2 separate regions of the Homo sapiens genome follow, and region 2 is linked to region 1. The links come from fine-mapping of genetic effects on gene expression. Tissue or cell type: spleen. Region 1 holds a variant in brackets; the other region holds the start of a gene. All regions are shown on one strand. Distances are from middle to middle.

Region 1 (8,209 bases):
TACTGCTAGTGAAAATGCTTAACATATCGGCAAACTTATGGTGTAAAGGAATAACCTAGGGCACCTGTTAAGATGAAAATTATATGGCCCACATGAAATAATTCTAATATTATCTTTTAAAAATTCCAGTGGCTTTAGGGGTACAAGTGTTTTTTGATTACATGGGTGAATTGTATAAGGTTGAAGTCTGGGTTTCTAGCGTACCTGTCACCCATATTGCGTAGATTGTACTCAATAGGTGATGTTTCATCCCTCACCCCTCTCCTAGCTTCTCCTCTTCTGGGTCTCCAATGTCCATTATACTACTATGTGTGCCCTTGCATACCTATAGCTTATCTCCCACTTATAATTTTTAAAACATTAAACTTCATTAAACATTTTTATTGGTAAAAACAATATGAGCAAATAAAATATATTCTTATGGAGAAACTGTTAGGTCTACCAGCTGGTACTGTCAGGAATTTCTGCAAGTCCAGATATCAATTTTTACCTAAGAGGCTTTTACCCAACAATTCTGAAAGCCAAGTCAGTTTTTGTCAATGTTTGTCAAACGTTTGCTAAATATTGTTGAATGTGTTAATTAATAAAGATTGCCAGGAGTCCACTCAGTACTCTGAATGTTCTAGAATATCTGGAATAAACCAGAACTAATGAGATTAGTATTGTATTGGCTCCCAACAGAATTTTTACCTTTCGCTGAATAAAAATTGAGGTTGCTTCACCTCTCTATACTAGGATAAGGGACTGAAGAGTCACATGAACTTGTGTATTCTGTAAGAATGTGATTAATTGCATCACTTACTGCCTATTCTTTAAGAGCTTTCTAAAGATATTTCTCCATTCTTCATATAAGAAGTAGTTTTGCTTCTCTAACAATTAACTGTCTGTAACTTATAGCCATCATGAATTATGTAGCTAATCATGTTTAACTCTCACATAGACTGTTAGAAAGCTTACAGCTCAATTTCTGACCCACATATAATAAGAGAACAAAAATTCATAGCAGGTGGAAAGTGTATTTTCGGCCTATTTTTTGTCTTAATTTTTAAAAATCTTTCTACTTTTCTTTTTGCCTTTTCTATTTATACTTTGTAATATGCCACATAACAATGTTTCTGAACAATTGTCCCATAAGATTACAATACCATATTTTAGAGTACCTTGTCTATGTTTAGACATGTTTAGATGCACAAATACCATTATATTATACTTCCCTACAATATTCGGTATAGTAACATGATGTACAGTTTTGTAGCCTAGGAGCTATAGAATATAATAGAGAGCCAAGGCTGTATCACACAGGTTTGTGTAAGTACACTCTATGATATTTGCACAATAATAAAATCATCTAACAACACATTTATGAGACTCTATCCTCATTGTTAAGTGGGACCTGACTATATTTTTATTTATGGTATGCAAAATACATCAAGTAATTTTGGAAACAATGCATGTAGCTATTGTCACATGTTAAGAGATAGACTATAAATTCAAACACAATTCTCCGAGTCCAAAGGACATTCTTTTCTATTAAAACTATATGTTGAGAGCCATTGTAGAAATAAAAATTCAATGACATGTGAAAAGGGTAGTAGCACGGGGATGGGAAAGTAGTCTCAAGGTAAAGAGACCATGAACAACTCTGATATTTTGAGTCAAGTGAAAGCAGTGAGGGTTTGAACTACTGGGGTAGGGGAGGAGGGTGCCTGCACTCAGCCGGGGAATCCAAGAGGTTATTTAGAAAAAAACCACAGGTTTTGAGGACGTATCAGATTTGAAAGGGAAATAAGACATTGATTATCATTGCTGCCTGGCAGACACCTAAAAATAAGTATTACTGACCAAGTGACTGAATGACTCACTATGACCAAGTTATGCATACTGGATTTGAAGAGACAATGAATCATACAGAGGTACATTTTTGGCTTGTGACTACATCTCTATGGAGATACAAACATGAAAAAAATTGAGACCACCAATGCTTCCAATTGGTCAAGTCTTAAACCCACTTCTTAGTCTGTACGTGCTTTACCATTTTACTAGCCATAGGAATTTGCCTTCCTCCTTTTATTCCTTGTGGAAAACTCCACCCACCCACAACTCATTTGGCTTTCTCAAGGTTGAGTTAAACATTGAGTTTTATCATTGCCTTATCCCTTTGCTTAATATAAACACCTGCACTCTTAAATTAATAATTTTATGATTATTTGCCATTTATTTATTTGATAAATGTTGCCTATGTCCCTAGTGTGTGCTAGGTATTATACTTGATGTTGTTTAGAAATTAATAGGAGTGAACAAAGTAAAAACCCAGAACCCTGCAGAGTCATCAAAGAGGTAATTTTCCTGCCTTGCTATGATGTATAAATAAACTACCATGATAAATAAATCTGAAAAACCATTCAGATTTGCCAATCATTACATTGTCTTCATTAAAAGTTTTATAATCACTTTAGAGCAATCATAAGGAATTACAAAAGTTCTTGTTTCTAGAAGTCAAAAAATATTTATTATTTCCTAGACTCAGAACTTACTTTGCTATAACTGAAATGATTGAGTAGACTTCTGCCTCAAATCACAAAGAAAGCAAAACTCAAGTTTTCGTTAATAAATTTTAGTCTGTCCTTTCTCTTGGGTGTCTGAACACAGGTTCAGTCTTTGACCTAACACACACTAGGAACTTGTCCCTACCTCCAAGAGCTCAGGCACCTATCACTGGGACCCCTTGGGAAAGAGCAAAAGGATTCTGTTCTGGATTTGCTTGGTCTTTATTCTGTAGACAATAGAGTTGAGAGCAGGTGGAATGATTACATAAAGGTTGGCAAACATAATATGAAAGGTATGAGGGACATTATGCCCAAAGCAATGGGCAAGAATGGAGAAGAATGCTGGTATATAGAATATGAGGATAACACAGACATGGGAACCACAGGAGCAAAGGGCCTTCTGACGGGCATCTTGGGAGGGGAGGCAAAAGACAGCACAGAGGATGAGGGTGTAGGAGACAGCAATGAGGATCACGTCTGTCATCACCGTCATGATGGGAACACAAAATCCACACCAGATATTGATGGAGATATCAGCACAGGCAAGCTGGGCAACACCTATGTGCTCACAGTATGTGTGAGAAATGATATGTGTCCTGCAGAAGGGTAAACGATTCACAAGGAAAACACATGGGACAAAAACACAGAAACTTCGGAAACATATTCCCACAGCAATTTTGACAATGGTTTTGGGAGTCAGAATAGTAGTGTATCTCAAGGGTGAGCAAATGGCCATATAGCGGTCAAATGCCATGGCCAGCAGTATAGCTGAGTCCAACACAAAGCTATAGTGCAGAAAGAATAATTGGGTGAGACAGCCAGGGAAACTGTTTGGGGACCAAACCAGAAGATGCTAAGTGTTTTGGGGACACATGTGGTGGACAATATGAGATCAGTAATGGCCAGCATGGAAAGGAAAAAGAACATGGGTGCATGAAGACTGTGCTCTACCACAATGAGGTAGAGAAGGATACTATTGGCCACGACAGCCATGAGATAGATTAAGCAGAATGGGATGCTGATCCAGACGTGGTACTGCTCAAGTCCAGGGATACCCAAAAGGATGAACAGGCCTGTACCATGGTCACTCATGTTGTACATGGCCTTTAAGATCAATAGCTTCTGTGTCCTAAAAACAAATTGCTTATAATGAACATGAGGAAATTGTATGGTAATTCTTCCTCCACTGCTTCCTAGGGGCTGGTCCGCCTCTTTCCTATATTCCAAGAAAAAACCTCTCATTGATATTAACAGCAATGTTCATCACTTGAAGAAAGACTCTCAGACCCAATACTTCTGATACTAATCATCCAGTTACTCTAGAATCTTCTTCAAACTGCATAAACTGCTGTTCCCATTTTAATGACTGAGTTCTCCCTGGGTCAATGTAAGTTGCTGCTATATAAATATGAGTATAGAGAAAAGTAGTCTAACTACATGCAGGGATAGAAAGAAACTGAAAAATACTGGGTCACAGTTGGGAAAATGAGATAATTAACAATTACTGACTCCTAGTACATGCCAGTTTCTTGAAAAATATTATCTTATTTAGAAAAACCTTCTGAGATACGTATTTTTATCCACCTCATTTTTTTTTTTTTTTACAGAAACTGAAACTGAGACATAATCTTACCTAACATCTCACCTTTAGTAACTAGCAGAGCCAAGGTCATTAGATTCCACAGCCACTACTCTTTCATGTTGCTGTTACACCAGGTAACTGCTTCAACTCACTGTGAGATGCCAAGAATTCAGAAGAGGCGTGGACGTGTAGCAAAGGATGTAAAGAAACGGATCACTGGAACTGTAATTTGTCCCAACACTGACCCTACCCCAATTTCAACGACTGTTCTGATATCTCAGACACTACATAGAGAGACTTAAGGCTTGTAGACCAGAATGTTCTCTGAGATTGTGATGTTTGATGCCTCCTATATGAATGAAATGAGAAAGGGTATGAGGCTCAATCTCAGTCCACCCTTAGGAATTAATGAGGAAATCTTGTTTAAGAATCAGAGAAAATTGGTTTGTGTGCTTTTTACAAATACAGAGAGGACCTCTAGTGGAAGAAAAATACAATTTATATATTCTAAATCCTAGGTCAAGCTAAAAGCAAATAAACTTTATAACAGAAGCTAATATTTTTTGAAAACCTTTAATATACTACATGAGACCACTTTTGTAATTTTCTTAACAATTCTATGAGACAGGTAATAATATTATCCACATTTTAAGGATGCAGAGAAAAGTGATTTGTCAAAAGTCACACAAGAAGGAAATGGTAGTGCTGGGAATCAGACCCACGAGTCTTTTCCTAGACTCCTCTATATATAACCAAAATTATCTACAGAGTCTGTATGGCAAATAACATGTATAATATCTGCATAGCAAAAGATACAAAATTAACCAATATATAGAAAACTAAAAATATAAAACAAGTTAACAACATAAAACCAAATACATCATTTATGCTTATAAATGTAGATTGCTGGAATTCCTCTATCAAAAAGCACAAAGATAAATAAAG[T/C]TTAAAAATTCAATTATATGTCACTTATATGAGTAAGATCTAAAACAAAATGATGCATAAAGGATAAACAAGTGTGAATAAACAAGGATAAAAAGGATAGACAAGTGTGTTTCTGACAAATTTAAATGTGATGGAAGCAAGTCTAGCAAAATGGAAAGCATAAAAAGTAAAATTTAACTTAGAAAGCATTAAACAGGACAAAAGGTAGTTTGCACAGTTAAAAGGAACAAATGTTTATTAATACTACAAATAATTTGCCAGGCCCAGGAAACCAGACATGATGCTAAACCTTAGGTATTCAGAAACACATATCAGTCTATTCTTAAGAGAACATTACCTGCTAAAGTCAACAGATTTGTAAAAGAAAATTTCAATGCAGAATGAAAGTCATAGGGAATTCAAAGATGCCTGTGGAAACTGAGTGGAGAGGTATTATCAAAACCTGTAGCATCAGAGAAGATCTTGAGAAATAGGTGAAACAATGTGAGTCTTGAGGATGATGCAGATTACTCAAGAAGACAGAGAAAAAACATTTCAGGCAGAGAAAGCAACACATACAAAGGCTTAGAGGCATGAAGTTATGATATATTTTGGTAAATTTACATCATCTAGGTATATTTAGCGGAGTGCTGGGAAATGGGTAGCAGCCAATCAGTCAATAAAGATGTAAGCATGTAATAGGTACTGGAAAGATAGTGTGTATAAAACAGATGCAATGCCTCTCGTGGTGGAGATAATTTATTGAGGAAGACAGACACTATTCAAATAAGCAGTAGGTTATATGTATAAGAATAATTATTACCTGCGATGTATGTTATGGAAATATATAGGTTATCATGAGAATCAATAACAAAGACGATTGGACCTGCAGGAGATAGGAAAGGATTCTTGGAGGAAGATATTGTAAAATGAGGTTGATTTTAACAAAAATATAATAAAATAAATAATACTGAATTCTACCTGTAAGTCAATTGAATTTAGCCCTTCCTCCCTCCCAGAGAGGTAGGTCCCCCTTATTGTTTCCATATTACAGACAAGAAAAAAGATGATACACAGAAAGTATATCCAAATTTGTTCAGCTGTTAAGTGGAAAAGCCAAATTTCTAACAGGTAGTTTGACCTCAGATCTTTTCTTCGACTCCACTTTACACTATATTATTTTCAGTAGGCTAAAACAGAAAGGAAAGCATTTAGAAAGAAAAGTGTGTGTAAAGTCCTTCAGGTAAGAAGGAGCTAGATGTGGAAATAAGCTCCTTGAAAGCAGCAGGTACTTGGTGGTGGTGGTGGTGGTGGTTGTTATGTGTGTTTTAATATATGTGGCTCATATGCTAAAAATGAAAAGAAAAAGAGAAAGAGAAAGAAAGAAAGAGAGAGAGAGAAAGAAAGAAAGAGAAAGGGAGAGAGAGAGAAGGGAGAGAGAAGAAGGAAGGAAGGAAGGAAGGAAGGAAGGAAGGAAGGAAGTCTAATGAAAACATCAAAATTATGAAAAATAGCAAACATTTTTAGCAGGCACCTAGCCTCTTCAAGAGACATTCATCTGGAAAGGTGGCATTCATCTGGATGCATTGGTTATGCCATAAACCCTAAGTATAACCAGCATAAAAGGATGCACCCTGTCCCAGTTTGCTATTCTTATATTTATGCATTTGTCCAACCACCATTTGTTGAGGCAGTCTACAGGACAGTATAGACGGTTACGAGGAAAGAGCTGGAGGCCAGACACTCCTGGCTGCCATACACCAACTCCATCAGTTCTCTTTAGATGAAATTGGGAAATTTATTTAACCACTCCAAGATTCTGTTTCCTCATGTGTGTATGAAGATCTAAGCTACCTCACAGGGTTTGAGGATTGATTGCAATGTTATAAGCAATGCACTTTGTACATTGTTTAGTACATTACATAGTGATCTTTTTTTAAGTTTTAATTTAATTTTGTATTTTATTCTACTGTGTAACAAGCACTGTGGATGCAGATATGACTAAGACTTTTTTTTTTAACTGTCCTCAAGGAGATCACGGATTAGTAGGGAAATACACACAGAAGGAGGCAATTCCACTGCAGAGTGACAAATAATATGTAACCTCAAAAAGCACAAGGATCTGTGTGGGCACAGAGAAGATACTATGCAATTAGGAAAGAGGGCAGGATGGTCAAGAATCTTATATTGGAGCTGTGTTTTGAAGGAAAAAGAGAAATTCTCAAGGCAAATGACAGGAATAGGGATACGCTAGGCAGAGAAGACATTATTTCAAATGTGAAGGATTAAGTGAGAATATTGTGAGATTTGGGGAATTGTATGCACCCCGATATGGACAGCACCCTAGATATGCTGAGACTGAGAGAAAAGAAGAGGAAGGTCAGATGAGTTTGGAGAAGTAAACAAGAACTTGTACTTTCTGATTCAGAACTTGAATCTTATCCTGAAGACTAAGGGAGGGAGGGGGCTGATAGAGGATTTTACTTGGGAGTGTGACAGAATGAAATTGACATATTGAAAACTGCATTCTGGCTGCTGTGTAGACTTGCTGTTGGAATGAAGTAAGATGCAATTGAAATGAAGTTTTAGAAACAGAATGAGTTTGAGAATTTCCCTGTAGTCCAGGGAGAAATGATGATACATGCTAAAAGGGATGAATTAAATAATGCTTCCTCCAGGGCTGGAATTGGGGGAAATGCCTAGAGTGCAACATTTAAGGAACAAAGGACTCACTCTCAGGGTTTTAAGTGCTTCCTTTAATGTTGCATCCTAGGCACCTCTATGGGGCTCACTGCTCAGTACACAGACACTCAAGGTGTTATTGCCAGTTAAACAGAAAAGAAGTTTACTGTTTTCTTCTTTGCTCACTTGTCCCTGTGTGCTGTTTAGCTGGAGACAGGGGCAGGAAACAAGTCCCAGAGGTCACTCCACTGGGACTTTCTTAGGAGCCATAAATGCTCTCAGGCTCATCGTGTCTGCAGCGCAGTGGGAGTCTCCCATCTGTGGTTGAAGGAATGGATGGAAGTGTGTGAGCTAGATTGCACAGATAGCAAGCAGAACATTTCTGGTGAACTTGGACACACAGACACGTGGAAGTTACTGTAACCACCTAGATTGCAAGAAACCTTTCCTTTGTGGGCTAGCCAAGTGGGCAGGA
Region 2 (8,179 bases), 36 kb before region 1:
TTGGAAGTTTGTAGGCCCGCCCTTCACTCTTACCGATGGCCATGTTGGGGCTCAGAAGGGGTGGTCTGTTGAGCACACAAATCTCTGTGGATGGGTCCCCTTTAGAGTCCAGAATCTACTCCTCAACACCTCCCCTGCTCCCACCCTACTGCAAGAAACTACTGTTTCTCAACTGCTCTATCATAAAAGCCTCCTAACTGGTTTCCCTGCTTCCCTGGTTTTCCTCTACCACAGTCCATTCTCCACTCTGAAGCCAGACTGATAAATTGAATTATTTGATTTATTTGCTCAAAACTCACCAGTGACTATTACATTCACAGTAAAATCCAAAGTTTTCACCAGACCTATAAAACTTTTCACAATCTCTCTGACTTCCTCCCCATTCCCCGCTCCTTTTTGTCCATTTCAGCTACATCACCTCCTTGTTATTCTTAAAACATAGCAGGAATACTGCTACCTTGGGCCTTTTACTTTCAGACAGCCCCTGGATCTTCCTTCTCCCAGTGAATTGCATGTTCAGTTCTCGTAGTTACTTCTGACTTCTGCTCAAATGTCACCTTTTCAGAGAGGCCTTCCCTCATCACCCTATGTAGAATATCTTATTCTGATTCATTTTTCTTCACAGCACTTACCACTTAACATAACTTGTATCTCCACAAAAGAAAGTAAAGTCAATAAATAAAGGATCTTTGTTTTTTTCACTGCTATTTTTTTCAATGCCTAAAACAACATTGAATTATTATGGTAAAAGTGTTTTAAATTATTTAATCATGGAATCATTAAAACACAAATAATTGCATATCCTGCCATGGTGGGATACTCTAGGTGAGGCAGAAAGAGAAAAAGGTGGGGCATTGGCAACCATGGAAAATGTAAACTACAAACATAAGATAGATATACTGAAGGAGGTGATATTCTTGGAAGGTGCTGTGCCCCATGGAGGGCTGGATTTGTGGTGACTGGGATATACAGTGGAGATGGCAGCAGCTGCATCTCTGTGTGCTAAAGAGACAGTAGAGACAGCCCATCACCATCTTATAATGGTGGCAAAATCAACGAGCAGGAGGTTCCAATGATGATAACTATTCATCCGGACTTGGTTAATATGTGAATTCACCCTACTCTGGCCCTCATATTATTCCTGTTCCACTTTCAAACTTGAACAATTTGGGTTTGAGAAATTCAGGCAGTCTTTATGACTAAATATCTGGGCCTATCTATGTAAAATGTTTCCCTTTCTGTTTGAGCATGTTATGATTGTTTTCCCTACATATGGGTCTATTTATGTGTCTCTAGGTATTTGCATCTGTGTTTGCACATGGCTGTGTGTACTCATATGTGGACTCTATATGCCTGTATATGTGAATTTTTTACTATGTGAGCTTGTGTACATACACACACCTGTCCAAGGTGACATGCTCAAAATAATCAGTTTCATATACCATGCTCAAGTTTCATATACCATGCTCAAAATGCTCATGTTTTAGAGATAAAAACATTATTTTTATCTCTATATTAATATATGCATGTGGTTTGTGTGTTAATGTACATATAGTAGGTGAGACAAAAATCTCACACAGCTAGTTTTTTCTTTTTTTTTTTGCAAAAGAAGTAAAGCCAAACCTCAGATCGCAGCAAGTGAGTGTAGCCATTTTATTGACAGATGTTTCAGCCACGACCAATGATCTATTATTCAGTACAAGACACATTGGTTGATAACTCTTATTCCAGGACTTCTCCTGGCTGGAAGCATCAGGAAAGGTGCAAAAGGCAAATGAGATGGTCAGGTGGGTCAGCAGGCAGGTAGCAAGCAAACAAGTAGGCATGGTGGTTAGAATCTCTGGGATCTCTTGAGCTTGCGGATAGCAGCATTGGTGTCCCCTTCAGTAGCAATGAGTGCCTGTAGATTGGCATGGTGGTTCCCAAATCCCATGGCCTGGAGAGAATCCATCTGTTTGCTAAAACAAATCTCAGGAGCTTGCAGAGGGTGGGAAGGGTCCCCATCCGGGGATTGTAGCCTCTGCAGGACTGTTCCAGGCTTGTGGCAGCACTCAGGTCCCTTGGGCTCAGCTGTATCTGAAACATTCCAGGAACAGGGCACTGTGTCAGGATAGCTGCAGCTGGGGGCAGGAAGCCAACCCAGGCCCCATAGGTAGGGTGCAACCCAAGGCAGAAGAACAGGAGCCTCTGTGGCCAGCAGCTGGAGGGCCTGCTCAATCTGCAATATTGCTTGGAATGCTTTAGGGTTGCCTAAGCACTAAGCAGATCAGAAATCTGTGTCTGCTGCAGGAATGTGGGCAGCTGCTGCCTCCACTGTTCACTCAGCTGGGGCATACTTGTGAACAACATAATCTGAGCTGCCAGGTAGGGGTTGTTCATAAGCAACTGCATCATGCCTCCTGTGATCTGGGAGCTGCTCTGCTCATCTGACAGCTGGAGATCACCCTTTAATGTCTGTCTGGAGCTACTTAGAGAAACAGTGGCATCCTTGTATTCTTCTTGAAGCTGCTGGGTAAGCTCTATGCTAGGTAAGGCTGGTATCCAAGCTGGCTGCCGAGTGGCACAGATATGGCTCTGGCCCTTGGTGGAAATCATAGCAGTGTTGGCTTTGGAAGTGTGGTTGACCTTGTTAAGGGTGTCATTGGCTGAGGTGTTTGAAGAGAAACCACCAGAGCTATTATAGATGACTCGGGTTGCAGGATGCTGTGTGAGCTGGTCTTGTTGTTCCTGTGATGGTGGTGGAGGTGGGGGTGAAGACTGGACTTGTTCTAGCACTTGTCCTGCCAGGAGAGCTGTGAAAGGGTTTCCTCCAAAAGGATCTTGCATGCTGTTCAGCATTTGATCATTGATATCAGCATAGTTCTGACCCAGGGCATTATTCCCACCTGGCATTGTCTCTAAGCCCAGATATGGCTGTGGGTTCAGTGGATACTCAAGGTTTTGTGAAGGTTGTTGGATCTGCATTATCTCTTGGATCATAGCAAGGTTCCTGGCCAGCTCCAGAGTCTGCAATAGGATCTCAGAATTATCAAGAAGAAGGCGGGAAACTTCTGGGTTCTGCTGCATCAATTGTTGCGTGTCTAGATGTTCTGAAATGAACTGCCACATGAACTCCATGTTGGACAGAAGCCGCTGGATGCTAGGATTCTCCAGCATCTGTGCTTTGCACTCTGGGTGGCTCACTTCCAAGTTTTGGGTATGCACTTTGGGTGCATCAGACCCCACAAAGTGGGCCAGTTCCACTGGAGCTTGATTCATACCAGTTGGTTGGTGCACTCTGCTGCTGTTTCCTTTGGTGTTTCTGTCCCGGTGGCAGGGATCATTCGTTGGCAGGTCCCGGAAGGAATGGGCTAGAGATCTGGAGCCCTGCTTGGACTTGATGACCAAGTAGATGGTGTGGCCATCCATGATGCCCCTCTGGCTCAGTGTGTCATGGTCTTTGAGAAGGCAACCCATGAAGACCAGCACTAGTTGGTCCATCTGGCATTGGAAGTGAGCCAATAGCATCTCCTTGAACTGCCTTACCGAGATGTCATCAGCTACCATAAAGTCTTTCTGGTTGCCTGCAGTCTTCACTATCACTCGAGTGGCACTTGAAGAGATATTTTTGTCTGCCAGCAGACCTGATGGACATCCACTCTGGGACATCCTGGATGTTCGAGAGATGGCATGCCACATGGGCTTTAGTGGGTGGGCAGATGGGGAGCAGGTGGAAGCTGGGGCAGAAAGGGTGAGGGCAGACAAATGTTTCTGCTGGCCTTTGTCTCAGGTATTGTGCTCTCAGGCCACAGGATAGTTTCCTTGTTGCCCTAAAAGGGATGAGTGACCAGACTGGGGCCAGATATTTTGTGATGTTGTGCCCTCACCCCAGTTCTCCAGATGTGGCCCAGCTGAGGCCTGGCATAGCTACTGATTCATAATTCACCCATGGTGGACAAAGTGGTGATGACTTCTCCTAGGGCTACCCCTCCTCCTACCCCACCCACCAGGGGCATGAATCCTCAGAAAAGGGATATTGTGATGTCAACTCTATCCTCGCAGTCACCCTGGGCCAGCTGGGGAAGGAGGACATATTTAGGGGTCCAGGGCTCTACAATAAAATAAAATAATTTTCCAGAAAACAGGGACAAAGTTCTCTGGATGGAACTAGTAAGAAAACAAAAAAGTAAATAAAAACCATATTTTTAAATGTGGGATGTGTGTTTCCGTGTGATACTGTGTGTATGTTCCTTATAGGGATGTTAGACTTGTATGAAAAGTTGGGTCTACTGAAGCCATAGATAAAGCCACATTCCTATAAGAATGCAGTCTCTCCCATAGGAAGGAGCGCATTAATTTTTTTAATGATCTGGAAATTTGGGTCTTATATAGAGTCTAGATTTTGGGATTCTATATTTAATTGTGCTCCCATGTGGTGGGGAAAATTTTCCTCTGTCCTAGGAAGCAGGAGTAGGGCTAACCAGGAAGGCTCTTCATAGGCACATGCCAAACTAAATGTGAATTAGCTCTTTTTTATAATATGCCTTTTATTCACATATCACTTGGTCTCTTCTACATGTCAATATAACAGAAGTTTTAGAATGATTTGTTTCAATGTCCTAACCCACTCTTGTGTGCCCACCTTTATGTCAAAGCATTAAGGGGGAATGTCGTCTGTAAATCAAGAGGTGGGAGAGGAGGTGGTTAGTAGTAAAATTCTTAAGGGGACAAATACAGGCAACTAAAAAGCTGGATTCTTGGTCCCATGTAAATTTGGAGAATTGTGTTTGGTTTTTATTTAGATGCAGATGGAAATAATTATTTATATGAGTGAGAGTGTACATGTCTTATCGAATGTATATATGAAATTGTATGCATATTCTGTGTTACTAGGAAGCCTTCAGGGTCTGGATTTTATATATTCCATCCACCTGCCTGGAGAGGGAGGAGCACCACACAGATAGCTAAGGAACAAGCAAAAAGCTCGAGCCCATATGTTCCCAGTGTGTTGAAGACAAGCAAAGGGATGATAGGCCGTTGGCCAGGAGACCTTCTGCTATCAAACCAATGATTCTTTATTGAGAATATCTAGACCCCCAGCACCATCCATGTCAGATCCTCATCATGCTATAAGGCCAGTTGCTAACTTACTACAGCAAGACTCAGGCCTATTCTCTTGCAATTGCACTCAAAAGTGAGATCGATCCAGGACAATGAAAAATTGATTACCAGACCAAGATCTTGCCCCTTTTCTCCCCAGGGACCTCACAGGAAGGTGGAGATAAGAAAGGGAACTTTCATATCCTACTCTAATGACCAGCTGCCCTGCAGCTTCTGCACTGGAATCAGGTGTTCCCAACCTGAGATTGACAATTCTAGATCACAGAACTCTTGAGTTCCGGGAGCTGGATTTATGAAAAAAGGAATATGAGATGCCAAAGCATCAGAAAGAGAGGGTACCATTTTCTTAGCTAATATTTTACTTTTTCCCTATCAAATCCACCTAGACCATTATTAAAGGGAACCTTAATGTACTGATTGAGATATTAATTACATAAAGAACTCACTAGATATAATCAGTCTTCCAATCATTAGGACCAATGGCCACTTTGGGATGTGGTCCTCCTGGAGGTAAGGAAGAGGGCACACTTCTACCAATGCTCTGCCTAGCCCTGGGGTCTCAGGGTCTGGAAGCCTCGTTAGGTTTGACAGGTTTTGGTGGAGCATGAGCCCCAGAGGGCCTCCTGGTGGGTGGTCTTGGTAGCCTGGTCTTCATTGTCAGGAAGGTGAGGTCATAATTTATCAGGTAACCATCACTGAAGACATACGGCTTGTGGTCTGAGGGGCAGTAGTTGATGCCCTGCAGCTTTTCCAGCATCTTGTCCAACAGGATGCTGAGGCGGCGCTCCTGCCCGGTGGTGGTGTCAAAAGCATAGAAGATCTCCTCTTGGTGGGTGTTCAGTGAGTGTAAGGCATAGAGCACCCCACAGGCCATGAAGGCCCCTGACAGGGCTGGCTTGTACTGGCTGGTACGCCAGGTTTTCTCCACTTCTAGGGTGCTAGCGTTGAGACGACTCACAACCAGGTTGCCCTTGCTCTCCTCAGTGGCATAGAGAACCCACAGCCCCTTCTCATCACCAGCAAAATCTAAGTCCTTCCAGGGCACACCAGCATAGGAAAAGCGGTTGTTATAGGTGGCACCAGGCAGCAGACGCCACAGCACCAGTGTGTTGGAGGAAAGGTCCATTTTGGCCATGTCACTTGTGCCACAGTAGTTAAAGTACATAAAGTTCTTGTACACAACGTTTCCACTGCCATCACCATAGCCCATCTTCCTCTCTTCATAGTTTTTCAGCAGTGCGAGGTCATTATAGGATTTGCACAGCCGATAGTAGTCAAAGTACCTAGGCCAAGTCCCTGCATTCAGAATTATTGGGTGACAGCCATAACTAAGGTAACAAAGAGCTACAAAAATAGGCAGATCAGTTTGCTAATTAAGAGCAGGGGCTTTGCTATCAAACAATTGACTTTAGTTCATCTTTCACTTACTCAACCATGACAAACTAAACAATTATTTTTAAAAGTAACAGTAATAATAAAACACCAATAGCTACAGTGCCTATTAGACACTATATATGCACAATCTTATTTAATTATAATAACAGCACTGTAAGGTAGGTTTTATCCTTACAGATGAAGAGACTAAGTCTTAGAAAGGTTGAGTCATTTGCTCGAGGTCACACAGCTTATAAGTAAAAACTGTAAACAAAAGTAACAAGCTACTTTATTGACTGTTAGGACTGTCCAAAATAAAGCAAAGAAAACAATTAGTACAGCATTTGTTTCAATAAGCAATAAAAAATGGTAGCTATTATTTTTTCTTCCTTATGGAGATTCTTCTGTATCTACTCTGCACTGCCTTCCACCTGTCCTCAAGATGCAAGGGTCCTGTAACAGGACATATTTCTGGAGCTGGATTCAGGGAGATTTGTTCTCATGAGGTCACATTGGAAAGTTCCTTAAATTATCTCTGAGTTATGAGTAATCTTATCTCTTAACATTGTTCTGTAAGTCCTGATTACCTATAGATTTTGAGAGGGTTCCAAGGCGTGTAAATGTATTTTATAGGCTACAAAGTATAGCACATATGAGTTATATGCTACAAATTGTGGCCTATACAATACATTTTAGATAAGCATAGAATTTTGGGAATATTATTTTCAGTAATACTAATTTTCAGTAACACTGATCTTTCTGAGTTGAGCTTCAACTGGAGCTCTTCAATGACTGGTTCAACCTAGATTCATGTCTCTCTCTCGCAACAGGTCTATATCACATTTTCACACACACTGGCTTTTAACATTCTGTGTGTTGGGCCTACCTCCCTAGCAAGGTTGACAATGTATTGAAGGTCTTATTCGTCTATTTATTGACTCTTTTAGCCATTCTTTCATCTAATAAATACATATCATCACCTATGTTTTACATACTTTTCTATGTAATCTTATGTGATCTTCTCAAATATGTATAATTATCCTCATTTTACATATGGCTAAGAAAGGTTCTGAGATGTTAATTCATTTTCCCAAGGTCACTTAGCTTAAATGGCAGTATAGAGTTTCAAACACAGATTGGCTTAATTCCAAGTCTCAAGCTTGGCCAGAGACATGCTCTGAACTTCTAAGCAGGAAGTTAGAATTTTGAGGCCCAGGTGTAGAAGAGTTTGTTCTTTACATAGAATCAGAGTAGAAGTAGAACCATCTTTGAGTTACTATGGGATTAAAATTTGTAGGCAGTGGATTTGTGAAGGAAACTCAGGGCAGTCTGGGTCACGCTTGTCTCATGAGAAGAGCGTTAGGAGGTGACCTGTCAGGCCTAGGCTAGGTTTGCTTTGGGGCATACTTAAAATAGAAGAAACCAGCGTGGGGCTGTAAAGAACCCTGTTTGGGTATGGGTAGGGGACATTTGGAATTAATCCGATTGCAGAACAGAAGTCACTCAGGGCTCACCTGCCATCTGTACGTAGAGGAGCAACCCAGTAAAGGGAAGAGGCTGGATTGGGTGCTGAGTCTCGGCCCCAGGGACCTGCCTTATATGAGAAGCCTCTCCGAGTGAGCTGCACCACAAGGGATTTGCTAACTTCCTGGAGGCCTCCATGGGCACAAGAAGCTAGGGGAAAAAGCAGGCAATATATAAGCCA

What was found. PIP is the estimated chance that this variant, and not a neighbour inherited with it, causes the effect.
Region 2: it holds the start of UBQLNL, and the variant in region 1 is the best candidate, but not a certain one, in a credible set for the expression of UBQLNL in spleen (GTEx, PIP 0.65).

What each region holds. Positions count from the first base shown.
Region 1 is chr11:5,548,950-5,557,158 of GRCh38, forward strand. It overlaps the pseudogene OR52H2P. Among named protein-coding and RNA genes, the nearest start is that of OR52H1, 4.5 kb to the left of the region's middle. RefSeq lists an enhancer at 7,510-8,074. The variant T/C (reference allele first, on the strand shown) is at 5,074.
Region 2 is chr11:5,512,764-5,520,942 of GRCh38, forward strand. UBQLNL (ubiquilin like) reads right to left here and starts at 3,936. Exons shown (of 1, transcript NM_145053.5): 1 at 1,630-3,936. The coding sequence starts at 3,678. The coding sequence ends at 2,251. It also overlaps the pseudogene OLFM5P.